Linked DNA regions of Homo sapiens: regions 2, 3 and 4 are each linked to region 1. The links come from fine-mapping of genetic effects on gene expression. A gene starts in region 1. Each other region holds a variant in brackets. All regions are shown on one strand. Distances are between the middles of the regions.

Region 1 (8,109 bases):
CATGGCAACATTGTGTGTGTGTGTGTGTGTGTGTCTGTGTGTGTGTGTGTGTGTGTATTCACTGCATTTTGCTCGTTGACTTTCTGGAAAGCTAAAGAACAGTATCTGCTTATTATGAGAGTGTTTTGAGAGAGTCAGCCAACACTTTAGCAGAAAAATACCCAGGAAGCTCCATCACAGAGTCCTTCTCCACCACAACAATGCTGCTGCTCATTCCTCTCATCAAACATGGGAATTCTGCAAGAGTTTCAATGGAAAATAATTAGGCATCTGCCTTACAGTTCCAATTTTGCTCCTTCTGACTTCTTTTTGTTTCCTCATCTTAAAAAGAATCCTTAAAGGGCACCCATTTTTCTTTAGTTAACAGAGTAAAAAAGACTGCACCAATATGGTTAAATTCCCAGGACCCTCGGTTCTTTGTGGATGAATTAAATGGCTGGTATCATTAGTTACAAAAATGTCTTGACCTTGACGGAAGTTAGCTTGAGAAATAAAGTTTACATTTGTTATTTTTATCTTTTAATTCCATTTTCCCATGAACTTTTTGAAATCCCCTCATATACACACCCAGTAGTGGGACTGCCGGATTTTTAGTTTTTTGAGGAACCTCCATACTGTTTTCTATAATGGCTATACTAATTTACATTACCACCAATACTATATAAGAATTCCCTTTCTCCATATCCTCACCAGCATTTGATAATTTTTGTCCTTTTGAAAATAGCCATTTTAACTGAGGTGACATGATATCTCACTGTGGTTTTAATTTGCATTTCCCTGATAATTAGTGACCTTGAGTAATTTTTCATATACCTGTTGGCCATTTGTATATCTTCTTTTGAGAAATGTCTACTCAGATCCTTGCCCATTTTTAATTGGATTATCTGGGGGTATTTGCTGTTGAGTTGTTGAATTCCTCATATATTCTGGATATTAGTCCCTTCTTGGATGAAGAGTTTGCAAATATTTTCTCCATTCTATAGGTTGCCTCTTCACTCTGTTGATTGTTTCTTTTGCTGTGCAGAAGCTATTCAGCTTGATATAGTCCCATTTGTCTATTTTTGGGTTTGTTCCCTGTGCTTTTAAAGTCTTACTCATAAAATCTTTGCCTAGACCAATATCCTGAAGCATTTCCCCTATGTTTTCTTCTGGTAGTTTTACAGTTTTGGGTCTTGCACTTAAGCCTTTAATCCATTTTAAGTTGATCTGTGGATATGGCAAGAGAGAAGGGCCTTATTTCATTCTGCACATGGATATCCAGTTTTCTCAACACCATTTATTGAAGAGACTGTCCTTTCCCCAGTATACATTCTTAGCACCTGCACCACACCTTATGCCTAGTGTTCCGTTATTGGAACGCTAAGCTTGTGGGAGTTATTTATATCCTACTGCTCAAGGTCATCGCAAAGGTCTGATTTTTCACACAAAAAAATTTGCAACCTCTGGCATAAATGGGTTAAGTAACTGCCTTAAATTATCTTTGCCTCATTTTTTTTCTTTACTAAATAATATATATAGTAGTAGAATTAACAGCATGATCTCTTAGAGGTCTTATGAGGATTAAATAATAAAATATATGTAGAATATTTTGAGCTATTATCCTCATTATTACAACCTACTACAGTTTTTGTTTTTTTAATTCATAGCATTTATCCAGTTGCCTGTAATTTTATGCCTTTTTCTTATTTATTTATACTTTGAGCTTATTAGTAAAAACAAAACAAAACAAAACAAAACCTTTCTGCTTATATCTTTAACCAAAAAAAAAAAATTATTTAACAAAACCGAGACTCAGTGATTCAATGCAGCAGACATTTTCAAGGGTGGTTGCCCAGCCCCAACCATTTGCTGAAACAAAGAGGATCCTGATTCCACAGCTAAATCATTCCTGCCAGACCCCCCCTGGCCATGAATGATTTGTCCACTCAGGGGATGATAACCAATCATAGTTGAGTCGATCAGATTTTTTCTCCCAGCACCTACACTGTTTTTGGCAGTACTCTGAGAGGGTTCTCAAACCTGTTATCTCTTTCCTGCTTTTCCAGAAGCTGGATACCATGCAATGGCTCCCCTAGCATCCCTCTGATAAATTTACCTTTTGTCTCTAAGCTGGCCAGAGTTAGTTTCCATTACTTAGGCAGTTGAGAGGGGTCACAGCTGAGTTCTGGAACACACCTCTATCTCTTTGTGTTAGAGCTCCTTAATCCACATCTATTGAGAGACTACTGTTTGCAAGGCATGACCAGATATGTGCTGTGAGGATCAGCAAGGTTTTGACAGGAAAAGAGGGGGTGTGGCATTAAGAGAATAGAGAACAGCAGAAAAACACAGGGCAGATATAGGGAACTGAAAGCAATACAGTTTTACTGCAGAATAAGGCATATGAAGGCACATGGTTGATCCTCAATAAATGTTTCATTAATTGATATTAAATTAGATGTAAAACTAGATAGACAAGTTGAGGACAAATAATACATGGCTTTGAATGCCAACTAAGGGATTCAGAGTTTACTTGCTTCAGAATTGGGACCACTGAAGATTTCTGAGCAGAAGAGCCCTATAATATGAATTGTGCTTTCTGAACACTAATATCTCACGCAGTCCTCATGAGTGATCAGCTTTTTAATGGGCTGAAATTTGTGTTTTATTTACGGCCAGATGCGGTGGCTCATGCCTGTAATCCCAACACTTTGGGAGGCTGAAGCCAGGAGTTTTAGACCAGCCTGGCCAACATGGAGAATCCCTGTCTTTTATTAAAAACACAAGAATTAGCCGGTCATGGTGTCACATTCCTGTAATCCTAGCTACTTGGGAGGCTGGGGTGCGAGAACTTCTTGAACCTGGGAAGCAGAGGTTGCAGTGAGTGAGCCGAGATAGCACCACTGCACTCCGGCCTGGGTGACAGAGCAAGACTCTGTCTCAAAGGGAAAAAAAAAAAAGTTATTTATGTTTCTAATGAGGGAAATTTAGCAGCATATTTTACAGAAAATAGGTTTCATTTCAATGACAAATGATACTTCTTTATGGGTCTCATTAGAGAACTGAAAATACTTGCAAATACAGTATATTTGATAATGTCATTTTCTGCTCTAGATCTAATCAAAGTTGTCAGCAAAATTAATTTAAGGTCCACAATTCTCTACTCATGTTAACCTGAGGGAGAGGTTATTGTGCTATTAGGACTACGTTATAACTGAGAAACTGTTAAATGCCTTCTCATACTCCTCTAATGGAGACAACCCAAGTTTCAGAGAAACAGTTTATAAAGCACTCTATAACATAGTGAAGAGCATTATGAAAATATCTGGCATATGCAATCTTGTTAGCATGAAATGGGTAATATTAAACACAGTCCCTAATATCACTGTGGCACCCCAATTTAGAAGAGCTATACTGTACCAACTTTGCTTTCCACCCACAGAAAGGACCAAGTATGAAGTTATATAAACACCATTCTCCCTTAATTGAGGAACTGGTAATCGAAATACAAACTGATCTGCTTATTCACTATTTACATGGCCATTCAAAGTAATAAAATTTTAAAAGTAAATGTTATGTTGAAAAAAGTCAAGTGAAAAGCAAGATGTTATCCAAACAAATTATCTGTCTTTAAACAAAGTAAGTTTTCCTTTCCTTTCAAATAAGAAAAAAAGAGAACCAAAAAGTTCACCAATAGAAGTGTAATTCACATGAATCGCAGTGATGGTATACCATGGAATAGGAAAAAATAAGTTACAAGTCATAGTTCAAATTTTTTTCATACCCCTGCCTGTACTGTAACTTGTGAACTCTAGAACTTTAACAGACTTTCTGAAAGCTGAAAAGAATCCAGTAACTCGTACAGAGAACCTCATGAACAGTTCCTGAGGTACCACAAGCACCTGTTTCCAGCGTGTTCCAGCCATGGCTTGTAAGTGGACCTGCAAATGCTGCAATGTCCAGGGTACCAAAATAGGGGAAAGGCGCCCAGGCACAGCTCAAGGGAGCTAGCTTACCCCAAGGCTGTGTTTGACAGGGATTTGGGAACTGGAGAGGAAGGAGGAGGAGGCAGAGTACAGCCTCTGTCCTACGGCCCCACACCCACCGGCAGACATCCATCCTCCCGCCTGCGCCCCGCCGCGAGGGGGTACTCACAGCTCTAGTCTCATACAGAACCAGCTTCTGGACCGAGCTGATGATGGGGGCGGCGGCCGTGGGCATGGCGGCGGCAAATGGGGGCCCCACAACAGGGCACGAGCCTCCGGACCGCCCCAGGAGACTCGGCGAGAAAACCCCTCAGGCCCTGGACATCAAGTCCAGCCAGGAACAACACCCATTAGGCACTAAACCTATAGATGATCAGGTGTTTCCGGATCCCTGCGCCCCGCCTCCAGGCAAGCCCCGCCCCTCACGTCGGGAGCGGGGCTGGAGGACGTATCATAGAGAGGTCGGGTAGAGGCTCCCGGGACCTGCGTGCTGCCGAGAGAGGAAGCGAAGGGCACCATCTTTGGTAAGGATTGGAGGAAAACATGGGCGGAGAAAAAGTCGACGGATTAATTGAGTCTATTTATCTCCTCCCTCTCTTTGGAAAAAAGCGGAAGGTTTGGGATTGGGTAGCTTCTTTTGAAAAGGGTTCTCCGAGTTGCAGGATAGATCCTTGTGTTTTCCCTGCCTGCTGCGGCCCATTTTCCTGGAAGCCGGCCCTCTGACGGTCCTTCACTGAGTGTCAGTTTTCCCCTCACCTCTAATCCATGTTGTACCTACGCTGTGTGGCCCAAGAAATTGTTTTAAAATCACCTAAAGCTGGAAAGTGTGGCTTTGCCACACGTTTGTGCGTGAGGCTAGCCACTTGAAGTTGTCGACAGAGACTAGCGCAGTGTGGCGGAGCCGCGCTTGAAATGAGGTTTCTTCATTTCATGTGTGCGACATAAATGGGCATGCGCGTACCCTCTCTTCCATAGTTGTGAAAATGAGTGTATTATAATTATAAATGCCAAATTAGGTACAAAAGTGACTATTTCGAATTGGAAAAGAAATGACAAAGAACTACAGCCCCGCCTCTCGAGGCCCCGCCCCACCAAGCAGCAGGTGCGTGGCGGCCAGAGGTCTCCCCGGCAACCGCCCGACAGCCCCGCGGAGTCCCTGGAGGCAGTTGCTTCCCTGAGGAGGGTCCGGCTGCGGCCAGGTAAGGAGCCTTCCGGCGGCCCGCTGGGTCGTGGTCCGCCCTGGAGGCATCTTGGTATCTGTTGCACGGAACCCCGCCTCCTGCGGGGACCCCCAGACCAGCTTCTTTTCTTGCAAAACGGTCTCTTTGTAAATCCACTTTTTAAAACCACGTCTCCTTTCAACGACTGAAGTATTTATTCCACAAATATTTACTGAACACCTACTGCAAGAGTATAAGATGTAGGGGAGAGGCAGCTATCCTATCTTAGGCGGCAATTCTAGGTTTCCCAGGAAACCTCTAAACCTCAGAAACCTCTGCTAGAGGGCTTCTCAACTGCTAAGTGTAAGGAAACTTTAAAAAAAAATTATAGAATTATAGCATACCCAGATAACATTCATGTAATACCAAAGATCATATTGTAAATTAAAATTTGAGAAATTACAAAAATTGTAAAGAAATACTTAAGTCTATGTTATTTTGCGCTTCTTTCCCCCTGTAGTTTGGTACTCCTTTTATTAAGAACTAGAAGGATGGCCGTGTCCGTTCTGGCATTTTGGACTTGGATCTTTTAACTGGGAAAAATAGTTAGCTGTGTTCTGTTTCATAATGAAACCAACTCTTCTGAATATTAGTTAAATGTTTGCACAGTGTTTTTATCTAGGATAGCAACTCTTAAAATACCTGAAGGATTCTAGTTTTCAATTATTATAGTTTAGCACTTCCATTTTAACTTTATCTTAGTTTATTTCACCCGGAATCAGATCCTAAGACAAAACTTTGAAGGCAGGTTGTTTATATGAGACGTAATCCCAGGAAACAGCAGCAGGGAGGGGAAGAAAACTAATAAAGGAAATATTACCAGAGAAATTTCTCTGTGGGCTGAATTCACTAGGGAATACTGGGAGGCATGTCTCAGTTATCCCCTCTTGAGGGGCAAGGAAGCTGGAGTATTTATTCGCCAACTTCCATCAGTTATTGGATGAAGCCTGATAGGGCAGAACATTGATGCCCTAGAACTTCCAGTCTACCCTGTGTTCAGGGAGAGTAGGTTCTGGCAGCCAGAGAAAGCCCTTAGGCAAAAAGTCGCACATGCTAACATTTTGGAAGTTGGGCTGGTCGTGCATAGAAAAGGTGTATGTCAAGTGGATATGGGGGAGGCACTAATAGCAGCTGCTACATTCCACCCTTTGCAGCACTCGTATCCATTCTTCCTCCACATCAAGTTCACACCATGCCACCCTAATTCTTTAAGGTAGTGGCTAGTCTCAATTTTTAAAAGAAAAGGACTTACAAAAAAAAAGATTAATGGGACAAGCTGCAGAATCCACTACTGCAATTAATCTGAGGTCTCTAATTGATCATCTCCTTCCTCTAACATCATTCTAGATTTTCCTTACTCTTGGCCAACACTTCTGCTGGTCTGTGTTTGCCCAGTAGGATAACAAGCTTTCATCCCTGAGGAGCATAAGCCCTTGGTTACTGTGTCATTGTAAGGTTTTGGTTGCTGCAATTACCCATTCACTGGACATGAAAGCATCAAGAGCTGTCTCAGAGAATCCCCTGAGTTCAAGAAATGCATCCCCTATCCCACTTATCTAGCAGTTTATGGCCATACCACCCTGAGCACCCCCAATCTCATCCAATCACATAGCAGCAACCCTATCTCCATCTGCCAGTGCAATAACTCCTTATGAGCTTTTGGAGTCAAAAATGACCAGGTGGCAGCAGTAGTTTTAAGATTTAATGAAACCTTTACTGGGTCCCCTGATAGAACCATCTCTCCCCTCCACCAGACCCAGGACCTCTTGTCCAGAAGTGAGGTGCAAATTTCCCAAGTCAATCACTGAGAGTATTAGTGAGAGGGGTCACTCCTACTTCCAGCCCTTGATTCAAAGCATGTTCCTCATCTTGAAGTACATTGTCTCAATCCCACACAATCCCAAGCTAGCGCCTTAGCTGTGCCTTTAAGAGACCATTCCAACATTCTGTCAAACCAGTAGCTTCTAGGTAAAGTGGTATTGTAAAAAGGGTCCTCTGATCCAAGGCAATGGTATATGAGATCTCATGAAGATAAATGAGACATACTCTAAACCTTTAGGTAGTGGTGCTGGCCAAGGCACTGCAGGTAGGAAAAACAAGCCCATATTAGGAGCATTTGTCACTTGCCCCTTTAAAGGTGAAGGGGTCCTGTGTAATCAATTTGTCACTGAATGAATGTTTTGTCTCCTAAAGGGGTTGTACCATATTGAGGGCTCAATATGAACAGGTCTCAATTTGTAATCAATTTGTCACTGAATGAATGTTTTGTCTCCTAAAGGGGTTGTACCGTATTGAGGGCTTAATATGAACAGGTCTCTGCCATGAACAGGTAGAACATTCAGCAGCAGTAGTGTAGCTAAACCAGCCTGGTGAAAGGAGGCCTTGATATGAGCCCATGCCTATCCTTCATCACCTTCATCCCTGCCACCATGCCTACTTCATTTACAAACCCATTATGCAAGCATTGAGGTGACCAGAAGCAAAGATTGGCTCATGTCTACTGGATAAATTATCCTGTCCACCTGGTTTTTTCAGTGCCTCTTCTGAGGTGGATGCTTTCTGAGATACAAATATCTATGTATTTTACATCCACTTACATTAGTTTTCTATGCTGCATAGCAAATTACTGCAAATTTAGCAGCTTAAAACAACACACATTTGTGATCGCACGGTTTCCATGGCCAGGAGCCCTGGCATCACTCACCTGGGTCCTCTGCTCAGGGTTTTACAAGGCTGCAATCTGGTGTTGGCTGAGATGTGCTTCCATCTGGAGACTTGACTAGGGAAGAATCCACTCCCAAGCTGATTCACATTGTTGGCAAGCATCATCGTTTTGTGGTTGTAGGACTGAGGTCACTGTTTTCTTACCAGCTGTTGGCAGGGGCTGCACTCACATGCCACCCACTCTTCCTCATCACGTGGTC
Region 2 (8,109 bases), 56 kb after region 1:
TACACCGTTGGTGGGAGTGTAGATTAGTTCAACCATTGTGGAAGACAGTGCGGTGATTCCTCAGGGATCTAGAACTAGAAATATCATTTGACCCAGAGATCCCATTACTGGGTATATACCCAAAGGATTAGAAATCAGGCTACTATAAGGACACATGCACGCCTATGTTTATTGCAGCACTATTCACAATTACAAAGACTTGGAACCAACCCAAATGTCCATCAATGATAGACTGGATTAAGAAAATGTGGCACATATACACCATGGAATACTATGCAGCCATAAAAAAGGATGAGTTCATGTCCTTTGCAGGGACATGGATGAAACTGGAAACAATCATTGTCAGCAAACTATGGCAAGGACAGAAAACCAAACACTGCATGTTCTCACTCATAGGTGGGAATTGAACAATGAGAACATTTGGACACAGGGCGGGGAACATCACACAACATGGCCTGTCGTGGGGTGGGGATCTGGGGGAGGGATAGCATTAGGAGAAATACCTAATGTAAATGACAAGTTGATGGGTGCATCAGACCACCATGGCATATGTATACCTATGTAAAAAACCTGCACATTGTGCACATGTACCCTAGAACTTGAAGTATAATTAAAATTTTTTTAAAAAATTAACCAGACGTGATAGCACATGCCCATCGTCCCAGCTACTTGAGAGGCTGAGGTGGGGGGATCAGCTGAGCCTAGAGGTTGAGGCTGCAGTGAGCCATGATTGTGCCACTTGCACTCCAGCCTGCGTGATAAAGCAAGACCCTGTCTCAAAAATAAAAATAAAATAAAAAACAAAAACATATGCCAGGATCATAAATAGACATAATTCAAATTTTAAAATCTTTGAAGAAAGAGGTCATTTTGTTATCCTGTATCATAACAAGATCTCAGTGGGTCAACATAACTGGGATATGTGCTGGGACCCCTGCAATATGAACTGGTGCTGAAGAGGAAGAAAAGTGGGCTTGGTCAGAACAGAGGCTGGGAAAAATAAACTGAGTACTGAGGCCTCCTGTTCTAGGTCATCAATGAAGGAAAGAGAAAAAGTATCTATAAAACCTGCAGGAAATTTCTGAGCCAGAAAGTTTGTCCTTAGAAAGCATTGCATGCATGGGGCATAGGTGTAAGGTTGTAGTTCATAAGCTGTATGACTAGGTGAACCTGCCTCCTTTTTCATAAAAGGGAAGATGTGGCTGTGTATGCTGGAGTCATTATTCATATCCCTTAAGCAGCATTTCTACCTGGCAGTCCAGACCACCTCCAAAAGAATCACCTGGGAAGCTTACTACAAACACAAATCCCTGAGGCCCAAATCCCAGACTGATTGAACCAGACTATCTGGAGATGGAACCTGAAAATGTATTTTTACAAAATCTAGAACAAATTCCTATGCCCACTTAAGTCTGAGAACCACTGCTTTAACTCTTGGGACACCAAAGGAGCCTGGTCAATTAAAGTTGATTAATATACAAGTTCTTGTGTTTTTAAAGGACTTTAGATGAATAATCTTCAGCTAAAGGCAGGTGATTTTTAGAGAATCAATATAATGGAAATATTTAAAGCAGTGGGTCCCAGCCCTGACTGCAAAATGGGGTCATCTAGGAAGCTTTTTAAACATTACAATGCCCAGGCCAGTTAAAACAGAATTTCTAGGGTAGGGCTCTGTCATTAAGTGAAACAAAACAAAATAGGATATGACATCAAAGGCAGAGACTACAAAAGAAAAATACAAAAAAACTTTTCTGCATCAGCACTATCAGTAGAAGCCGGGCATGGTGGCTTATGCCTGTAATCCTAGTACTTTGGGAGTCTGAGGCAGGCAGATCACTTGAGGCCAGGAGTTTGAGACCAGCCTGGCCAACATGGTAAAACCCCATCTCTACAAAAAAAAAGGAAAACACATCAATCAATAGAGTAAAAAGACAACCCACAGAAAGGAGAAGAATATTTGAAAATCACATATCTGATAGGGATTACTATGCAGAATATGTAAAGAACAACTACAACTCCACAGCAGTAAAAAAATCCAGTTCAAAAATGGGCAAAGGATTTGAATAGACATTTCTCTAAAGAAGATATATAAATAGCCAGTAAGTACATGAAAAGATGCTCAATATCACTAGCCATTAAGGAAATGCAAATCAAAACTGCAATGAGATGCCATCTCATATCCATTGGGGTGCTATTATTCAAAAAATGAGAAATAACAAATGTTGATGAGGAGAAATGAGAACCCTCTTGCATTGTTTGTGGGGATGTAAAATGGTACAGCTGCTGTTTAAAATAGTTTGGTGGTTGCTAAAAAAGTTAAACATAGAATTCTCATCTATCCAGCAATTACACTTCTAGGCATTTCCCCCAAAGGATTGAAACCAGGAACTCAAACAGATACTTGTACACCAATATTTATAGCACCTCTATTCACAATAGCCAGAAGGTGGAGATAACCCAATGTCCATCAATGGATGAACTGATAAAATGTGGTGTGTGTGTGTGTGTGTGTGTGTGTGTGTGTGATGGAATATTATTCAACCTTAAAGAGGAGTAAAATTCTTATATATGATAAAATATGATCCATGAAAACATACTAAGTGAAACAAGCAGATACAAAAGGGCAAACATATGATTCCACTTATACGAGATACACAGAATAGACAAATTCATAGAGACAGAATGTAGGATAGAGGTTACCAGGGGCTGGGGGGAAGGAGAGTTATTTCATGAGTACAGAGTTCTGTTTGGGATGATGGAAAAGTTCTGGAAATGAATAGAGGTGGTGGTTGCACAACACAGTGAATATACTTAATACCACTGAATTGTATGCTTAAAGGTGGTTACAAAAACAAATTTTATGGGATGTGTATTTTGCCACAATTAAAAAAACAAAAAATAAACCCAAAAATCTTCCCTAGGAGATTCTACTATGCAGCTCAGGAAGAGAACCACTGGTTTAAAGGGGTAGGAAAGCCACAGAGACCTTACTGTAGACTCCAGCTCCCTGGTGAAGAGTGAGAGAGCTATAGCATCTGCTGAGTTGCAGGAGAGGAGGGGCTGTGCAGGTAGATGAGGACATGGGCATGGGTTTGTGCAGTAGGAGGAAGGACAGGGTCAGACTGGCACCTAGCACAGTAAAAATTTTGGCTTTCGAGTCACACAGACCTGGATTTGAATTCAGCGGTACAGCCTATCAGACCTGTGACTCTGCTTAACCTTGCTGCCCTTTATTCAATGGTATATATTAAAAAAGGAGCAACAATCCCTATGGCATCGTATTATTGTAAAGATTACATGAGATTATGCTTTTAAAGTGCCTAGAACCAATGGTGATATTTTAAAAATTTAACAGCTGCATTGCAGGGGCAGGGTTGGCTTCATGAACTTCACACAGGACCATGTGCTTAGTTTAATACTCTGCTGCTGCAGTCCTGAAATTCTTAATAATTGTAGAACAAGGGTCCTGTAATTTTCATTTTGTTCTGGCCCTGGCAAATTAGTTTTTGTGGTGCAAGAGCATTCACCCAATCACAACAGAGCTGGCAGAAGTGCTGAAGACATTTGCCAGGCATTAACCCTTAGTTGCTGGACCATGGAAAGGTCCAGAGTTTCTTCAGCAAGAGGATGGGTAGGAGTAGAGCTTGAGGGTAGTGGTTATAGTGGCCAACTTTCTTCTGCCCCTGCCCCGCTACCTTGGCTGTGTCTGGGGTCCCTCACATGCTCCTCTGGTTAAGTGGCTCCAGAAAGTATGCTTCTGGTCTTCTCACTGGGAGAGAAGTGGTGGGAGGGGACCAAGTGGAGTAGGAGTGGCTCTGGCACTAGCACCTTCTTTCAAAGATTTCCAACCAGTTACACTGTTTTCTGCTCTCCATTCATTCCCCTTCAGAGGTACCTGGTATCACAAGGTCCCATGTCTTTCCAGGGTTTTGCAAAGTGAATCCACTGACTCCTTGTTGTTCTTACCCCTCCCATACCTATCTTTGCTCTACAGATATTTAGCTTTCACCTATCTCTGATATAAGTCAGTTACCACTCATCCATCTGCTTTCTAACTTACAAAACTGTGTAGCTGTAACTGGTGAGCTGTCAGCCTTGATCAGCACCTCTAGTCTCTTCTCCCATTCTCTGCGTCCTCATGAGTTTATTTCTTTTTTTTTTATTCTTCTACTGTCATTTTAGTGAGGTTTTAGGAAGCAGCAAACATAAATTCATGTTTTCAGTCTGCTTTGTTTAACCAGAAGCCAGTCCTGATCATTTTTAAGCCTGTAATATCAAATTCATTCAAAAGCTCATCTTCTCTTCTCCCTTCGGCACCTGCTGAACGTGTGGCCCCATGGGCATGAAGTTGAGAGAGGAACATGGTCTGCTATTCAAATACTTAACCTTTTAGAGAATACTTATGGTCTATTCAAATACTTTTTTCAT[G/A]TATGGGTGGGAAATATGGATGATAAGGAAAGAGAGACTGCCTCCTGACCTAACTGGGCATGGTTTCAGTCCCTAGCTCATTGTCCAGGAACCCTGTGGAGAAGGCCTGTAGCTTAATGTGCTCCATGGATGAGGTTCTCAGTCTTATACAACTCTCCTAAGCATTGACAGTTTCCTTAATATTTACTATCACTTCCAGCTCTCACTTGGGAACATTCATGCAGTATCCCTGCAGTGCACATGCCTCTTTGTTCTCTGATGCTGCAGTGGTCCATGGAAGATCATAGCTCACAATCTCATCTGCATTGCATAGTCAACTCTGAAGCAAGCATATATCATGTGTGACCCACATCTGAGGGTTGGGGGGAGCAGTTTTCCCCTCGCCATTGCCCACTCTCTTCATTTTCTTTTGCTATAGCAGAATACCGCAGACTAGGTAATTTATAAAGAAAATAAGTTCATTTGGTTCACAGAAATAAGTTTATTTGGAGCCTGGGAAGTCCAAGTGCATGGCACTGGCATCCGGTGAGGGCCTTTGTGCTGTGTTTCCCATTGTGGAAGGTGGAAGAACAAAAGAGTGCAAGAGCCAGAGCCAGGGCAAGAGGGGTTAACTTGCCTTTATAATAAGTCCACTCTCAAAATAACTTACCCACTCCTGAGATAAGGACATTAATCTATTCATGAGGGCGGAGCACTCGTGACCTAATCACCTCTTAACAGTCCTACCTCTTAATACCATCACAATGGCAATTAAATTTCAACCTGAGTTTTGGAGGGGACATTCAAACCATAATACTCACCATGCCATCTCTCACCAGTTTTCTCATCCCCTGGTAAGGAACCACAAGGACAGATGAACCTTTCAAGCAACCTTTCTATCATATGGTTAAGTAAGCATAAATATAAAATAAAATAAGCATGTTCCCAACTGAGAATTAGCAGTTTTCTACAGAATTTTGCAGTCTGTAGAAAAGTATTTCTTAACTTATCTGGAGGTCACCAACAGAAAGGATTGCTGATGAAGGAGACTTTAAATTTTAAGAATTAAAGAACTGCTTATAGCTAAGTAAATGCAAAAACAATCTGTACATAACATCTTAGGTATATGTGAAAGCCAAGGTAAATTAGCTAAGAATCTGGTACATTTTCCAAAATTTTTAATAAGAATTTTTCAGAATCTGTTTTCTAAGGAAGATGATAGAAAATGCGCTATCTACCTTATGCTTATTTTACCATATGATAGAAATTGCTCAGTAGAATTTAAAGATTTTTTAACATAAATGTAAACTAGTTCTTTGTAAAACAAGGGTCCTGTAATTTTCAACTAGTTCAAACTAGTTCTACACTGTCTTATTAAATCAAGGACAAGTGCAGGATGTTGCAATTAAGAAAAAAGCCAAAATTTCCTTTTTAAATTATTTCTTAAATAGTAAAGCACTATAAAATGATAAATGAAATATTTAATGCTCCTAATTTCAGCAAAATTTATGCCCATATTTTTAATGTAGTATTTGCAATTCACAGGATGAGCTATTTCGTACTCTTGCATCTTATAAACTTATTGCACCAAGATACAGATGGCAAAGAAGTAAATGGGGACGTACATGTCCTGTGAATTTAAAAGATGGTAACATTTATTCAGGATTACCAGATTATTCTGTGAGGTAAGTAAGATTTTCAGAACTTAATTTTAAATCTTCCTCATACATCTTTTCAGTTGTTTACTAATATGGCATATTTTAAGTTTTCTAGGTAAAATCTACTGTCTTTCATCAGAAGAAGCATTAAAACCATTTTTGTTGAACCCACGTCCCTATCTGCTTCCACCTATGCCAGGACCACCATGTAAAGTATTCATACTTGGACCTCAATATTCAGGGAAAACAACACTTTGCAATATGCTTGCAGAAAATTACAAAGGAAAGGTGACTAACTAACTATCTGTCTATCTATCTATCTATCTATCTATCTATCTATCTATCTATGTCTATCTGTCATGTATCTATACTCGATTATAATTTGTAGGATTTTATTTGTACTCAGTTTTTAAAATTTCATGTTTTAATTGAATAATTGTTCCACTGGGCTTGGGGTAGGGTAGGCATTCTTTTTGTTGTTTATTGCTGCTTCCAGACCAGAGTCCCTCCCTGCTTCCCAAAAGCTCCCACATGTGAATATCGTGTCATTCAGACTCTGCCACCTATTAGCTTTCTTGGTTCTACTCATCTTCTGTCCCCTGGGTTTCACTTCTCCTGGCTCACTCTCACTCTCCCCATATAATCACTCCTGTCCTAATTCTTGGTGATTTCAGTATTACAAAGATGATCCTCCCAACACCTTGACACCTCCCTCAGTAATCTTGTTCTCCACTCTCAGTAAATGAAATTATTTTTAGCTTAGACAAGAGTGATAGCAGTAAAAGTGGTATGAAACAAGCATATTTGGGATATAATTTGAAGACAAAGCTGAAAGATTTGATGAGGGATTGGAATGTGGAGGAATTCTAGAAGGGGCAATGTGGCTTGAGGATTGCCTATGCAAGAAGGAATGGCACAAGATCATGGCTAAAGACAGAGCAATTCAGGCCACAGAAAGGTGTTAGAAGTTGTTCAAAGTGCTGTTGCATTCTTTTAAGCGCCGGAGTATCATTTTCTATTTGCTTTTAACTTTTTCATTGTGAAACATGACAAACATACAGAAAAGTGAAGCCCACTGAGTTACCGCAAAATGAACCCCCATGTAACCACCAACCAGGTCAAATCTGGAATGTTGCCAGCACCCAGACGCCCTCTCATGTTTCTTCTCAATACCAGTCTCCTCACTCTCCACACAAAGGTAACCACTGCCCAGAATTTTATGGCATTCACTTCCATACTTCTCCTATGGTTTTGCCGTGGAAGCATACATCCAAATACCATAGGCTAGTTTTGCATGGTTTTTTTGAATTTTATAGACCTAAACAATTTATCTTCTTTGTGCCTGGCTTCTTTCACTTAACATTATAATTATGATATTTGTCCAGACTATTGAATGTAGCTGTAGTTTATTCATTTTTATTGTTTTATTGTATTCTGTTGATTGACTTATACCATAATGTATTTATCCACATTTGAGCACTAATAAAACTTGGATTGATTCCAGATTGGAGTAAATAACACTACTATAAACATTCTTGTATGTGTCTCTTGGTGCACACATGGACATATGTTCAACTTGTGTAGATAATGCCAAATTGTTTTCCAAAGTAGTTCCATTATTTCACAATACTATCAGGAGTATATGAGAGTTCTGTTATTCCACATTCCTGTCAACTCTTACTATGGTCGGTCTTTCTAATTCTAGCCATTTTAGTGAGTGTATAATAGTATCTCACTGTGGTTTTAATTTGCATTTCCCTAATGACTAATGAGGTTGAACCTCTTTCATCTGTTTACTGACCATTTAAATATTCTCTTTTTGAAGTGTTTTCTCAAGTGTTTTGCCCATTTTTAGTTGTGTTTTTGTATATTATTAGTAAGAGTTCCTAATATTATCTATATACAAGTTATCTGTTGATTATAAGCATTAGGACTATTCTCTGTCTCTCTGTGGTTTGCCATTTCACTTTTCTAATGGCATCTTTTAATAAACAGAAGTTCTTTGTTTCAATGAGGAATGATTTATCAACCTTGTCTGTTATCA
Region 3 (8,109 bases), 120 kb after region 1:
GCTCATGGATGGGTAGAATCCATGAGCATGTGAAAATAACCATACTGCCAAAAGCAATCTACAAATCCAATGCAATTCCCATCAAAATACCATCATTATTCTTCACAGAACTAGAAAAAAAATCCTAAAATTCAAATGGAACACAAAAAGATCCCACATAGCCAAGGAAGACTAAGCAAAAAGAACAAATCTATAGGCATCACATTACCCAACTTCAAACTATACTTCAAGGATATAGTTACCAAAACAGCATGGTACTGCTATAAAAATTGGCACATAGACCAATGGAACAGAATAGAGAACCCAGAAATACAGTCAAATATTTACAGCCAACTGATCTTCGACAAAGAAAAAAACAAACAAACAAAACATAAAATGGAGAAAGGACACCCTATTCAACAAATGGTGCTGGGATAATTGGCAAGCCACAATGAAGAATGAAGCTGGATCTTTGTCTCTCACCTTATTCAGAAATCAACTGAAGATGGATCAAGGACTTAAATCTAAGACCTGAAACCATAAAAATTCTAGAAGATAACATCAAAAAACTATTATAGACATTGGCTTAGGCAAAGAGTTCATGCCCAAGAACCCAAAAACAAAAAGACAAATAGATGTGACTTAATTAAACTAAAAATCTTCTGCACAGCAAAAGAAATAATCAGCAGAGTAAACAGACAACCCACAGAGTGGGAGAAAATCTTCACAAACTACGCATCTGACAAAGGACTAATATCCAGAATCTAAAAGGAACTCAAATCAGCAAGAAAAAAAAATAATAATCCCATCAGAAAGTGGGTTAAGAACATGAATAGACAGTTCTCAAAAGAAGATATACAAATGGCCAGCGAATATATGAAAAAATGCTCAACATCACTAATTATCAGGGAAATGCAAATCAAAACCATAGTGACATACCACCTTACTCCTGTAAGAATGGCCATAATTAAAAAATCAAAAAATAATAGATGTTGGCATGGATGTGATGAAAGGGAAACAGTTTTACACTGCTTGTGGGAATGTAAACCAGTACAACACTATGGAAAACACTATGGCAATTCCTTAAAGAACTAAAAATAAAACTGCCATTTGATCCAGCAATTCCACTACTGGGTATCTACCCATAGGAAAAGAAATCATTGTTTGAAAAAGACACTTGCACACACACGTTTATAGCAGCACAAGCCTAAATGCCATCAACCGAGTGGATAAAGAACATGTGATATATATATATTCCATGGAATACTACTGAGCCATAAAAAGGAATGAAATAATGGTTTTTGCAGCAACCTGGATGGAGTTGGAGACCATTATTCTAAGTGAGGTAACTCAGGAATAGAAAACCAAACATTGTATGTTCTCACTTATAAGTGAGAGCTAAACTATGAGGGCACAAAGGCATAAGAATGATATAATAGACTTCGGGAATTTGCAGGGAAGGTGGGAGGGAGATGAGGAATAAAAGACTACACATTGGGTACAGTGTATAGTGCTTGGATGATAGGTGTACCAAAACCTCAGAAATCACCACCAAAGAACTTTTCCATGGAACAAAACACCACCTGTTCCTCAAAAACTTTTGGAATAAAAAAATTTTAAAAAGATAAGACAGATGTTAAAAAAAAGACTGGAGTTCTTAACCTAGGGTCTATGGGTAAAATTCAGGGGTGTGTGAACTTAATTGGAAAATAATTCCGAATTTATTTTCACTAACATTTAACTGAAATTTATTATTTCCTTCAATGTGCAATTAATATAGGCAACAAACCACAATAATATTAGCAATACTTTGACTTTGTCACCAAAAGAAATGAAGATGTTTTCATATCACATTATAGTTTTACATATCTTTATATGTTTATCACTGTTCCAAAATTGTGGTAGTTATTAAACCGGCTACTAGTTCTGGGTTGTTTGTTTGTTTGTTTGTTTTGAGCCAGAGTCTCATTCCATGACCCAGGCTGGAGTGCAGTGACACAATCTCAGCTCACTGCAACCTCCACCTCCTGGGTTCAAGCGATTCTCCTGCTAAGCCTCCTGAGTAGCTGGGGCTACAGGTGTGTGCCACCACACCCAGCTAATTTTTGTATTTTGTATTTACATTTAATATATTGATTAATATACTACATGATTTATTATTTTTAGTTAGCTGTAAGAAAATCAATCATTATATATATAATCTAACCTGGTGCTACCCATTAGAAACATAATATAAGCCACACATGGAACTTTAAATTTTCTAAAAGTCACATATTTTATATTTAGTTTTTCATATTAAATCTTTAAAATTCACTGTATGTTTTATACTTACAGTATATATCAATTTGGACTAGCCTCATTTCAAGTACTCAATAGCCACATGTAGCTAGTGGCTACTATATTGAATGGTGCTGATGTAGCCATTTCTTTGGACATTGGGCTATTTCTAGATTTACTGTAAGGATGTTTGGAACTGCCACAAACATTTCATTTTTGAATGAACCCCTAGTCTGGTACTCATACAGAACTCTGAGCAGATGACTATCATCCTTTACCACTACATGTGAATAGCTATAATAAATAGATAATTTTTCTATCTCCCCCATTAAACTACATACTCTAGGAGGGCAGGGACCATTTCATATTCTTTGTTTGGCTTCAGCACTTATCAACACCCAATAAATATTTGTTGACTTCAACCAAATGATAATTTATTTCTTCAAATTTTTTTAGAAGCTGAAGAGACTGATAATGAGGATGAAGAGGAGATTGAAGGTGATGAGTTGGAAGTTCACGAAGAGCCTGAGGCATCTCACGATACCCGAGGGTCATGGTTACCTGAGGAGTTTGAAGCATCTGAGGTCCCTGAAACTGAGCCTGAAGCAGGTTAGACTTTATTGATAGCAAGTTCTTAATTCTACTCATGTGCATTAATGTGTCTGTTTGGGTATGTGTATGTATACCTGTTGGTAAAATGGAAGCTGGCTGAGAATGGAGAGATGAGCCCCCAGAGAGCAGCCATTGAGTCCAAATCCCACAGTTTGAAGTGTGGTAGGAAAGCAGAGGCTGCTCTGCCCCAGCACTGGCACACAGGAGCACAGCTGGCTATGTAATTTGTGGGGCATGTTGTTCAAAAAGCAGGAAAAAAGTGTCATTAAAGGTAGTAAAATATAACGGTTTTTCCTTTCTTCCATAGTCTGTCTCTCAATTTGTCATGCTATTTTTTTGTTTGCTATTTAATGTTGCTCTAAGTAAAGAAAAATTAAATTAAAATTTTAAATTATTAGCATGAATTTTACAGTTCATCTTTATGGTGTGCAATGCCATTTTTAAATGCAAATATAAGAGCATTTTAAATGTTAATATGAGAGCATTAACTCTTTAAGCCCTACCTCAGAGGTCTCATTTGGTGGATGGGGCAAGGCAAGAAGGAGTCTATAGGCAATGAAAACCACTCCAAGGACTAGAGAGTGGGCTTAAAGCAGGAACATAGGGTACCCACCTGTGGTGGGAATGAGGCTTGCAAATGCTTTCAAGCAGAGTTAGTATTGAATCTGAAATTCATCCTACAAACTAAAAGGTCTTCAGATACCTGTAACTGGATGCTAGTCTGGAGCAGTTAAGGGCCTGGAACTGCTGTGAGCTTATAAAAGAAGCAAGACTAAGGGAAATTAATGAAAATTACACAATTCATATTTCACAGCTCATATGTGCATGTGTTTCATTCTGACAAGTATATTAAGTATTATGCATATCTAAGAGCCCCAGGCTGGTTTGTTCACTTAAAAAGATATTGAAGCCCCAAGCATCTTCTTTCCTCCTGTACTTCTCTCCAGTATCTGACTCCATCCTCACGATCCATAGGTGGCTGCTGCATCCAGACACAATGTCTCCTCTTGCAAGCTTTTACTTTTTATTTCTAATTCAAGAAATAGATAGTTCACAGAGACTTTCACCTACATTTCATTGAGCAGAATATTGTATCGTCATCTACCCCTACTTGCAGGGAATCTGGGAATTTAATTTGGACTTGGCTTCCTTGCCTAGATGGTAGAAGCCAATGGAATAGAAGACGAGAGGGGGGTTGAGGGAGCCAACCAACAGTATCTACCATACTGCCTTTCCACAGATGCAGGTTGCAGGAATGCCTAGGCGCACATTCATTATTTCACCCAAGAAATAAGTAATCATCTGCTCAAATTCTTAAATGCTTAACTGAGACTTTAGAGTTTCACATAAAAGAGAAATATTGTTTCATAGTATAGGTGGTAGATCAGCTGTATCAGAATCACCTATGGTTCTTATTTTAAGGTAAGCCTCTGAGCTCTATGCAGGCTCTGGTTCAGTAAGTCTAGGATGGAATTTAGGAATCTACATTTTAATGAACACCCCAGTGATTCTTATACATACTAACAGTTGAGAACTACTGCTATAGGAAAAACATTCTGCCTGAAAAATAAGTTTTGTCAATTATTCCTTATATCATGGAAAAAGCACAGTAGCATACCTGAGAAAAATCTGATCCTGAAAATAAAAACTCTAGAATCATTTGGCTGTACACTGTATCTGCAGGTCAAAATTAATGAATATATTGAATAGAAATTTGAAAAATGTCTATTAAAGACAGTGATCGTAGTTTTGATACAGTTGATGTTGAACGGTGTGTTTCAAAATCATACATCCATCCAGGTTTGATAAAAATATGTGCTAACTATAGAAAATACAGAAATTATACAAATAGAAAGATGGGGGAAATCATCATTGATCTGACAACAAAAGGCAATGATACTTAACATTCTAATGTATTTCCTTTTAGCTTTTTTAAGAATGGTGTTTTG[T/A]TTTGTTTTTATCTAACTGTGATCCAATTAGACTTCGGCTTGAGAGAAAGGTTTCCTCTCGGACATTTTTAAAGTCCTACAAGAGAGTTATTTTCAATAAACAATAACTATATGGAAATTATTTGTTTATAAACTTCCTTCAGATAGCATTTTGGAAAGAGGCATAACTTCTCCACATTGTTGAATGCTCATGAGTGTGGCCAGTTTTGTCCAGTCCACTAGAACAGGCTGTGGATTTCTGTAGCTATGTGGTATTAGGATAATGATAATTCCATTTGGATTTCTCCCAAATTCCACATGACCCTATTCTTGAGATTTTAATTTTGATTCATCTCTTAGTCATCTGGTCTACATCTTTGAGCAACTTTTTAAGGATCCAGCGTGGCATATTTTGTAATTTTTCTGCAAATCTATTGCTTTCACATATATAAAACAACTTAGAGGCTATTAAATCATTGTCATAACCTTTTCTTCTCAGAATTCCTCATGTTGACATTGCTTCATTGTCTTCTACACATGGAAAAGTCAAGATATTCCCTCATTTCTGTTCTTTTCGTTCTTTTCCTACAGGGGTGCTCAAAGGATCCTTTTCAATGCCATTATTTGTTAAAACTTTGCTGGTATGTGAATGATTTACCCGGGAATTCATTGAGCTCTTCTTGTCTTCATATCACAATCTTTGTCTAGCTCAAAATGCCTTTCTTCAGTTATTGCTTCAGATTCCTTTTTCAGGATCATTTATTATTTTTGGTCAGATAACTATTGTTTCTCAACCACGTTAATCTTCTTTTTCCTGATAGTTCTCATCTCTTTGTACTTTTTCTCTGGATTCTTCAGAGACTTGTTATCCTCCATGTCACTGGTTTACCTTCTCCACCTTATTGCCTCTCTCCTAATGCATTAAAAAATTTTTTTATTTCAGTAGTTTTAGGGGTACAAGTGGGTTTTGGTTACATGGATGAATCACATATAGTGGTGAAGTCTGGGGTTTTAGCATACCTATCACTCAAATAGTGCATGTTGTATTCTATAGGTGGTTTTTCTTTTTTTTATTATTATTATACTTTAAGTTCTATAGAGGGTACATGTGCACAACATGCAGGTTTGTTACATGTGTATACATGTGCCATGTTGGTGTGCTGCACCCGTTAACTCGTCATTACATTAGGTATACCTCCTAATGCTATCCCTCCCCCCTTCCCCCACCCCACGACAGGCTCCAGTGTGTGATGCTCCCAACCATGTGTCCAAGTGTTCTCATTGTTCAATTTCCACCTATGAGTGAAAACATGCAGTGTTTGGTTTTCTATCCTTGTGATAGTTTGCTGAGAATGATGGTTTCCAGCTTCATCCATGTCCCTACAAAGCACATGAGCTCATCCTTTTTAATGGCTGCATAGTATTCCATGGTGTATATGTGCAACATTTTCTTAATTCAGTCTATCATTGATGGACATTTGGGTTGGTTCCAAGTCTTTGCTATTGTGAATAGTGCAACAATAAACATACGTGTGCATGTGTCTTTATAGCAGCATGATTTGTAATCCTTTGGGTATGTGCCCAGTAATGGGATGGCTGGGTCAAATGGTATTTCTAGTTCTAGATCCTTGAGGAATCGCCCCATTGTCTTCCACAATGGTTGAACTAGTTTACAGTCCCACCAACAGTGTAAAAGCATTCCTATTTCTCCACATCCTCTCCAGCACCTGTTGTTTCCTGACTTTTTAATGATTGCCATTCTAACTGGTGTGAGATGGTATCTCATCGTGGTTTTGATTTGCATTTCTCTGACGGCCAGTAATAATGAGCATTTTTTCATGGGTCTGTTGGCTGCAGAAATGTCTTCTTTTGAGAAGTGTCTGTTCATATCCTTTGCCCACTTTTTGATGGGGTTGTTCGATTTTTTCTTGTAAATTTGTTTAAGTTCTTTGTGGATTCTGGATACTAGCCCTTTGTCAGATGGGTAGATTGCAAAAATTTTCTCCCATTCTGTAGGTTGCCTGTTCACTCTGATGGTAGTTTCTTTTGCTGGGCAGAACCTCCTTAGTTTAATTAGATCCATTTGTCAAGTTTGGCTTTTGTTGCCATTGCTTTTGGTATTTTAGTCATGAAGTCCTTGCCCATGTCTATGTCCTGAATGGTATTGCCTAGGTTTGTTTCTAGGGTTTTTATGGTTTTAGGTCTAACATTTAAGTCTTTAATCCATCTTGAATTAATTTTTGTATAAGATGTAAGGAAGGGATCCAGTTTTAGCTTTCTACATATGGCTAGCCAGTTTTCCCAGCACCATTTATTAAATAGGGAATCCTTTCCCCATTTCTTGTTTTTGTCAGGTTTGTCAAAGATCAGATGGTTGTAGATGTGTGGTATTATTTCCAGGGGCTCTATTCTGTTCCACTGGTCTATATCTCTGTTTTGGTACCAGTACCATACTGTTTTGGTTACTGTAGCCTTGTAGCATAGTTTGAAGTCAGGTAGGATGATGCCTCCCACTTTGTTCTTTTGGCTTAGGATTGTCTTGGCAATACGGGCTCTTTTTTCATTGCATATGAACTTTAAAGTAGTTTTTTCCAATTCTATGAAGAAAGTCATTGGTAGCTTGATGGGGATGGCATTGAATCTATAAATTACTTTGGGCAGTATGGCCATTTTCACAATATTGATTCTTCCTATCCATGAGCATGGAATGTTCTCCCATTTGTTTGAATCCCCTTTTATTTCATTGAACAGTGGTTTGTAGTTCTCCTTGAAGAGGTCCTTCACATCCCTTGTAAGTTGGATTCCTAGGTATTTTATTCTCTTTGAAGCAATTGTGATTGAGAGTTCACTCATGATTTGGCTCTCTGTTTGTCTGTTATTGGTGTATAGGAATGCGTGTGATTTTTGCACATTGATTTTGTATCCTGAGACTTTGCTGAAGTTGTTTATCAGCTTAAGGAGATTTTGGGCTGAGACGATGGGGTTTTCTAAATATACAATCATGTCATTTGCAAACAGGGACAATTTGACTTCCTCTTTTCCTAATTGAATACCCTTTATTTCTTTATCTTGCCTGATTTCCCTGGCCAGAACTTCCAACACTATGTTGAATAGGAGTGGTGAGAGAGGGCATCCCTGTCTTGTGCCAGTTTTCAAAGCGAATGCTTCCAGTTTTTGCCCATTCAGTATGATATTGGCTGTGGGTTTGTCATAGATAGCTCTTTTTATTTTTAGATACGTCTCATCAATAACTAGTTTATTGAGAGTTTTTAGCATGAAGCGCTGTTGAATTTTCTTGAAGGCCTTTTCTGCA
Region 4 (8,109 bases), 200 kb after region 1:
TCACACCCACCTATCATGTTTGCTTTCCTTCTCAGGGGAGCAAGCTGTGTTTTCCATGTCAAGGGGTCTGTGTCCCTAACAAGGGAGAACAACATTTCTGCAATAAGAACATGTATCCTTTAAAGCTTCTTATTGAAATTCTGCTTTTGTTTAGAAATTATGCTTGCATATTATTACAAATAATCCATTAACTAGCGTCCCAAATATGATGAAAGAATATTCTGAATGGGTGTCCAGGGACCCTTAAACCTTCCCTATGTGAAACAATAACAGAGTGGGTGGCCAGGCCACGGTGCTCACTGAGGCTGAGAGAGACTCCTTTTTGCCCACCCCCATCCTCCAGCTGCTGCCCCAATCCTGACTGCTTCAGGAAGAGGCTGAGGCAGTGCAGCTTTAAGGGCAAGGGAAACTCCAACCAGCCTATGCCTCTCCATGGCTTGTCTAGATGTCATTTTCACAGCAACAATAACTTCACCCAAGAAGGAGAAGCAGTCTCCATTTGACAGATCCTAAGTCAAACAGTAAATGAAATGTGGAAAAGTAGGAAAAGGATTTTGGAGTACTTCCTTTCCTTTTTTTTTTTTTTTTTTTTTTTAACGGTTACACTCAGATCCACACTGAATAGATACGCTATATTTGACCATTCCTATTGCTGGACTGTGTACTGTTGTACTAAATTTTAAAATACTACGTTGAGGTTGGGCACAGTGGCTCATGCTTGTAATGCCAGCACTTTGGGAGGCCAAGGTGGGAGCATCACTTGAGCTCAGGAGTTTGAGACCAGCCTGGGCATGTCTCTACAAAAATTTTAAAAATAAATAAAATACTGTGTTGAATCTTTCCCTCTTATATTTAGGATTATTAGCCTGATATAAATTCTGAGAAATAAAATTGCTGGGTTAAAGGGCATGACTATTCTTAAATGGATATTCACAATTCATATTACCAAGCAACTTTCCAAAATAATTACAGCAATTTATACTGCTTCCAGGAGCACCCAAGAACACCAATTTCAATACTTCTTTACAATCACTTGGCAGTATCTTCACATTTTTTTTTTCTTTAATGGGTGAAAAGCAGAACCTTTTTGCTTTAATCTGAACTAATAGTGAGATTGTATATTATTGCATATGTTGGTCACCAGTTGCATTTTCTCTTTTGTGAATTATTATCACATCCTTTGCCCTCTAACTTATGCAGCGTTTAAAAGTTGTTCTGCATGAGTTCTTTATGTAATATAGACATCAACCTTTTGAAGTACATATATTCCATTTTTTAGGTATTAACATAAAACATGTTCATCATTGCTTTCTAATTTTTTTTTTTTTTTTGAGATGGAACCTCGCTTTTTCGCCCAGAGTGCAGTGGTGTGTTCTCAGCTCACTGCAACCTCTGTCTCCCAGGTTCAAGCAATTCTCTTGCCTCAGCCTCCCAAGTAGCTGGGATTACAGGCACCCACCACCATGCCTGGCTAATTTTTGTATTTTTAGTAGAGATGGGGTTTCACCATGTTGGCCAGGCTGATTTTGAATAGTCTTCTAAGCTCTGGAAATTCTTCAATCTCTAGAAATGGAATATTCCATTCTGTTTTATTTTACTTATTTGTGTTTTAAAAAATATATATTTGGCCGGGTGCAGTGGCTCACGCCTGTGATCCCAGCACTTTGGGAGGCCAAGACGGGCGGATCACGAGGTCAGGAGATGGAGACCATCCTGGCTAACACGGTGAAACCCCATCTCTACTGAAAATACAAAAAATTAGCCGGGCATGGTGGCAGGCGCCTGTAGTCCCAGCTACTCGGGAGGCTGAGGCAGGAGAATGGCGTGAACCCGGGAGGCGGAGCTGACAATGAGCCGAGATCGCGCCACTGCACTCTAGCCTGGGCGACAGAACGAGACTCCATTTCAAAAAAAAAAAAAAAAAAAGGAAAAATAAATAAATAAAAATAAAGATATATATTTAATTCTTTAAGTCCTCTAGAATTTATTTCAGGATATGGTGTGAACTGTGGTTTTAAATTCTTCAAAACTCAAAGTACAGTAATAAATACTATATTTTTTAAACGTTCTCAATTTTATTATATATTTTTCACTTTATTTGCAATTCATTTGGTAATTTGTTGAATTCAGGCAATTCATTAAAATTTCACAAATTCAGTGATGAAGGGGAGGAAGTTCAAGAACAGGATAGGCTGGGCGCGGTGGCTCACACCTGTAATCCCAGCACTTTGGGAGGCCAGGGCGAGTGGATCACAAGGTCAGGAGTTCGAGACCAGCCTGGCCAACATAGTGAAACCCCCATCTCTACTAAAAATACAAAAATTAGCTGGGCATGGTGGCGCACACCTGAAGTCCCAGCTACTCGGGAGGCTGAGGCAGGAAAATCGCTTGAACCCGGGAGGCGGAGGTTGCGGTGAGCCGAGATCAGGCCACTGCACTCCAGCCTGGGCAACAGAGCAAGACTCCGTCTCAAAAAAAAAAAAACAAAAAAAAAACGGAAAGAACAGGATAGGAATGAGAGATATATTTTACACATGAACGCCTTTGTCTAGTTGTGGGTGATTTTTTTTTTTCGTTTTTTCTTTTTTTTTTTTTTTTGGTTTGTTCTTACTTTTACAAATGAAGATCCGGGTTAAAGAATATCAAGCTACAAAGCCTGAGAGCCCTTAACTATGGGTGGTTCTGGGAAGAATTATCAGAGGGAGTGACACCTGAATTAAATGGACTTTTTAAAATCAAAGCAGGTAAAATTTTAAAAAAATAAGTCAAATTTGAGATTATAACCAGGGGGTGAAAAACATTCCAAGAATTAATTTGTGAGCACACGTATTCACCAAACCTGTGAGACGCATGTTGAAGACTGCTTAGCATATGCAAGCATGTGTATATTTACAAGAATTCTACCAGTCTGTGTACAGTAGGAGATTAAAATATAAGCAGATACATGCCCTGCCCTTGTGTAGTACAGGACACATGGGATCTGGAAATTGGAGCACTACTGGATTAGTGCTATAAAATCCCTCTAAAGATGCACTATTGGCACTGAACATTGACAATTGTCCTTCTGTTCTCCCCAAATCCCTTTAAGTCATAATAAGCCTTGGACTATAGTTCCTTCCAGCCACAGTTATCAACCAACCATCCCAGGCTACACACATATTTTTGATGCCCTTCATCATGACAAAGGACTTCCACTAACCTTTAATTGCCAGATGATCATGACCTTCTCCTTCCTCCAATCTGCCAGATTCTCCATTGACTCAATACAACTGGAAGCTAGCCGGCACAGGACTTTGATGATGAAGTCCTTGAGTCCCTGTAGCCTCCCAGGGCCAAAAAAAAAAAAAAAAAAAGGAGAGAAGAATGGAGACTACATTTGGAGAGGAAAGAGAAAAAATCTGGATCGCCTTTTATCAATATTCACTCTGTAACTGATCTTACTTACAACAATTTATAATCTATGCTCTGATAACTCCATTATTAATATCTCAATTCTGTTCTCAGCTCTGAACTCCAGATTGTTACCTATGACTGCCTACTGTACTTGGTTATCTAGTTAACATTTCAAATTTAATATGTCCACCCCATACTTGTTATCCAACCCAACTTCTCTTCTTCCAGATCAGTTAATGGTAACACCGTACACTCTGTTGATTTAGCCCCAAACCCAGGAGTCAATCTTGATTGCATTGTTTCCGTCACTCCGCACATCTATTCTCAGCAAGTCCTCTCAGAAAGACCTATCCCCCAAATCTACCTTGAATATGGGCTCTTCTTACATTTTACACTGCTGTCACCCTCATATCCATGCCTCCACTCATGTCCCTCCAGGATCTACTCTTCATCTAGCAGCTGGAGTAATTTTTAAATACATAAGTCAGATTCAACAGTCCTTTTGAATAATCTTCCAGTGGCCTCCTATTTCAGTTAAAATCGAAACTCCTTTTTCTTGGCATAAAAGACTTTACATGATCTGGCTCTTCTTGCCTTTAACATTCTCTCCATCCTTCTCTTTCTCTCT[C/G]TCTTTTTTTTTATTATTTTTTTTTATTTTTTATTTTTGGAGACAGAGCCTTGCTCTGTCGCCCAGCCTGGAGTGCAGTGGCATGATCTCAACTGACTGCAACCTCCGCCTCCCGGGTTCAAGAGATTCTCGTGCCTCATCTTCCTAAGTAGCTGTGCCACCACGCCCGGCTAATTTTTGTATTTTTAGTAGAGACGGGGTTTTGCCATGTTGGCCATGCTGGTCTTGAACTCCTGGCCTCAAGTGATCCGCCCACCTTGGCCTCCCAAAGTGCTGGGATTACAGGCATGAGCCACTGCACCCGACCTGGCATTGACCAATAACTTTGAAATGCCATTATCTCCTCTACAGTGTTTGAAGTATGCACTCTATTTGTACCAATTAAGTGGCTGTCCCTTACTCTTTCACCATGTATATGTAAAGCCTCAAGGTAATCAATAGCTGTACCCTTAAAACACTGGAATACTGATAACCAGCTTCCCATCTTAAATGGTATTTTCATTCAATATTTTAGATCTACTCTATTTGTTTACTCTCCGAATTAGACATTATTTTGCATAATCAATGTTTGTTTAGATTTCCTTCATACTTACTTTTTTCTCTTTTTTTTTTTTTTTTTGGCTTACAACTCCCTCTTATACCTCAGACTTTCCTCTTGGTGTTATTTTCCTTCCTATGGTATGGGTTTGTTGGAGGTTAATACTTTTATTTTTTGTTTGACCAAAATTGTCTTGATTTTGTCCTTTTCCATGATAATTGTAGTCTATAAAAAAGATTTTAGGTGAATTTTGAAAGTATCATGCCACTAACCTCTGGCTTCTACTATTGCTGTTGAGAAACCAGCTGTCATTTTAACTGGTTTTCTTTTATAGGTACAGTCATGCATTGCTTAATGACAGGGATATGTTCTGAGAAATGCATCACTAGGTGACTTCGTCACTGTGCAAACATCACAGAGTGAACTTACACAAACCTAGATGGTATAGTCTACTACACACCTAGGCTCTATGGTACAACCTATTGCTCCTGTGCTACCAACCTGTACAGAATGTTATTGTACTGAATACTGTAAGCAGCTGTAGCACAGTGGTATTTCTGTATCTAAACATATCAAAACATAAGAAAGACACTTAAAATACAGTATACTGATGGCTCATGCCTGTTATCCTAGCACTTTGGAAGGCCTAGGTGGGCAGAGCACTTGAGCCCAGGAGTTCAAGACCAGCCTGGGCCACATGGCAAAACCTCATCACTACAAAAAATACGGAAAAAAAAAAATAGTGGAGTGTGGTAGCATATGTCTGCAGTCCCAACTACTCAGAAGGCTAAGTGGGGAGGATCACCTGAGACCAGGAGGTAGAAGTCACAGTGAGCTGAGATCATGTCACTGCACTCCAGCCTAGGCAACAGGGTGGGATTTTGTCTCAAAACAAAACAGTATAAAAGAAAAAAAAAGTACACCTGTGTAGGGCACTTACCATGAATGGAGCTTACAGGAATAGGAGTTGCTCTGGGTGAGTCAGTGAGTGAGTGGTGAGTGAATGTGAAGGCCTAAGACATGGCTATACACTACTGTAGACGTTATAAACATTGTACGCTCTAAGCTACACTAAATTTATATGAAAAAAAATTCTTTGTTGGCTGGGTATAGGTGGCTCATGCCTGTAATCCCAGCATGGGAGGCTGAGGCAGCATTTATTTTTTTAAATGGGTGTCCTGTGTCTTTATTTGTGAAATCTGGCAACTCTCCACTCCATCTGCTGCCCCTCACTCACTGTGCTCCAGCCACACAGTCCTTGCCGTTCATCAGATGCTCCTTCCCAGTCTGAGCCTTTATGCTTGCTTTTCCCTTGCCTAGAACATTTTTATTCCAGATCTTCCCACAGCTGTCTCCATGTCATTCAGATCTCAGCTCAAATGTCACCCTATCCTGATTTCACTTCCCTGTCAGTCTCCATCATCATTCTTTATAAAATTTAACACTTTCTGAAACTATTATTCATTAGTTTACTTGTATATTTGTCCTGTCTCCCCTTAGTAGAATGTAAGCTTCATGAGAGCAAAGGCCTTGTTAGTTGCTGTATCCCCAACACCTGACGCCAATGTCTGGCTCTTAGTAGACACTCGATAAATATCTGTTAGATGAATGTATGACACCCCAAATCCTGTTCTGCAAGATTTAAATTTAAGAAGACCTGTTAGGGGTAGACCGGCTGGCCTTAACAAGAACAAAAGTTTTGAAAAAGTCAGTATGGATCCAAAACAAAATTGCCTTGAAGAAAGGGCTAGTCTGTGTTGTGGGTGGCTGATGCTGGAAGATCCTCCAGACTCAGTCTTTCCTCGCAGGATTATGCTCCAGTGAGCAATGATTGAATGAGGAAATGGAAGTACCTGGCTTACCTTGGCACTGAGTCTTCTTATGCCGTTGAGGACCTCTGGAGGGACAGTGATTTGACTGCAACCCTCGTAGCAGCAAGAAACAATGAGGTAGCTAACTTCCTGCTGGTATGCAGAAGTCAGGGAGCGCTCCCCATCCCACTTGTACCCCCACAAATCCAGAGGACTTAGAGACAATTCAATATGAAAGGGAAACCTCAGAGAAGGAGCATGTGTGGCTTGAGCTAGTTTTAATAAAATCTAGTAAAAATGTAAGAGCCAGGTTGCTAATTACACCTCCGGTTCAAGATCAGGGAGGCTATAGATGGCATGTTGGGAATCTGGAAATGGGCAGAAAAATAAGTAATTAGGTATTGGCTAAGAGAGAGAAAATGCTGAAATAAATGGATGGAAGCAGGTGGGGAGTAGATCTGGATGGGGCTTGTAGACCACATTAAGAAGCCTGGACTTTATCCAGAGGGCATGTGGGAGCCACATGGATTCTAAGCCAAGGAGTGACTCTAGTCTCTGGATCTCATATGTACTTGGAGAAATCCTCTGTACTTCTGCGAATTAAAGAGAACAACGCTGCAGCTGAGACCAGTTAGAAACAGTCTATTGAACAAAGATGATGAAAGTTTGAATAATAATGATCATTTTAATCACAGCAGACGAATTAAACCAGGCATTTCCTAAGCCCATTACATACTTAATTTTGTTTATGCAATAGCAACCCTACCAAAGTGGCACTAGTGTTAACATCTCCATTTTACAGGTAAGGTAAAGAAGTTGTGAGGGTAAGTAATTTGCCCAAGATCTCTCAGAACCCAGGTTTCTCTGACTGCAGTGCTCTCTTCATTCCCTTAGACTAAGGCATCAGGAGTGGGGAGGAAAAGGAGGCAGATGTGAAAAACATTTAGGAGGTAAGTAATAGTTATTATATTAGCACTAGATAATGACGATGGTGATGATGATGACAATGATGATGACGGTAAGGGGGATTTCATGCCTTTATACATTCAAGAACAACACCAGATTCGGTGTCGGAGAAGAGATAAAATTAAGGTATTGGCGTTGAGCTAACAGTTTAATACGATATAAAACTTCCCAAAGGGAGGGGTCACAACGCCTCTCCTGTCCATTGCCCCCAATTCACCGCAAAAGTCGCTCCTGCCTGGGCTCCCCGGCAGTGCCACACGCAGGACCTCGGGCGCCGACACCGCCCCGCCCCTGGCCGCGCCCCGCCCCGGCCACTGTCCCTCCTCCGAAGCCGCGCCCCTCCCCGCCCTGCCCCGGCCCCGGCCCCGGCCCCGGCCCCAAAGCCCCGGGCCTGCCATCTCGCCCCGCCCTGCCCCGCCCCGCCGCGGCTCCCCCGACCCCAGGCCTGCATTCTCGCCCCGCCTTGCCCCTCCCCTCCCCTGCCACGCCCCAACCCTTGAACTGCCTTCGCGCCCCGCCTTGCCCTGCCTTGCCCCGCCTTGCCCCGCCCCGCCCCGCCCCGCCATCTCGCCCCGCCCCGCCCCTCACCTCCCTTCCCCTCCCCGCCGCTCTCGTGGCCCCCACCTCCAGGGGCGCCTCTGCGGGCCACGTGGTTCGGCGTCCGCGCGCAAGCGGCTCTTGGCGCCGCGCTTCCGGGTTGGCTGTGGCTGTGGCTGCGGCGGCGGCGCAGGAGCAGAAACCGGTGCGGCGCAGAAGCCCCAGAGGCGGGCGGG

The links. PIP is the estimated chance that this variant, and not a neighbour inherited with it, causes the effect.
Region 2: its variant is fine-mapped to the expression of AK9 in whole blood (TOPMed, PIP above 0.99). The same link has a PIP of 0.9 or more in lymphoblastoid cells, nucleus accumbens and prefrontal cortex.
Region 3: its variant is fine-mapped to the expression of AK9 in whole blood (INTERVAL, PIP above 0.99).
Region 4: its variant is fine-mapped to the expression of AK9 in whole blood (TOPMed, PIP 0.98).

Annotation. Positions count from the first base shown.
Region 1 is chr6:109,687,527-109,695,635 of GRCh38, reverse strand. It overlaps AK9 (adenylate kinase 9), which reads left to right and starts at 4,434. Exons shown (of 41, transcript NM_001145128.3): 1 at 4,434-4,489. It overlaps FIG4 (FIG4 phosphoinositide 5-phosphatase), which reads right to left and starts at 4,340. Exons shown (of 23, transcript NM_014845.6): 1 at 4,135-4,340. The coding sequence starts at 4,200. RefSeq lists an enhancer at 4,387-4,856.
Region 2 is chr6:109,631,167-109,639,275 of GRCh38, reverse strand. It overlaps AK9 (adenylate kinase 9), which reads left to right. Exons shown (of 41, transcript NM_001145128.3): 11 at 5,953-6,092; 12 at 6,173-6,353. Among named protein-coding and RNA genes, the nearest start is that of AK9, 56 kb to the left of the region's middle. The variant G/A (reference allele first, on the strand shown) is at 4,429.
Region 3 is chr6:109,568,198-109,576,306 of GRCh38, reverse strand. AK9 (adenylate kinase 9) reads left to right here. Exons shown (of 41, transcript NM_001145128.3): 21 at 2,713-2,865. Among named protein-coding and RNA genes, the nearest start is that of ZBTB24-DT, 89 kb to the right of the region's middle. The variant T/A (reference allele first, on the strand shown) is at 4,818.
Region 4 is chr6:109,483,150-109,491,258 of GRCh38, reverse strand. It overlaps ZBTB24 (zinc finger and BTB domain containing 24), which reads left to right and starts at 8,040. Exons shown (of 7, transcript NM_014797.3): 1 at 8,040-8,109. It overlaps ZBTB24-DT (ZBTB24 divergent transcript), which reads right to left and starts at 7,615. Exons shown (of 4, transcript NR_187591.1): 1 at 6,422-7,615; 2 at 3,200-3,323. RefSeq lists an enhancer at 1-652 and silencers at 7,540-7,979, 8,060-8,109. The variant C/G (reference allele first, on the strand shown) is at 4,022.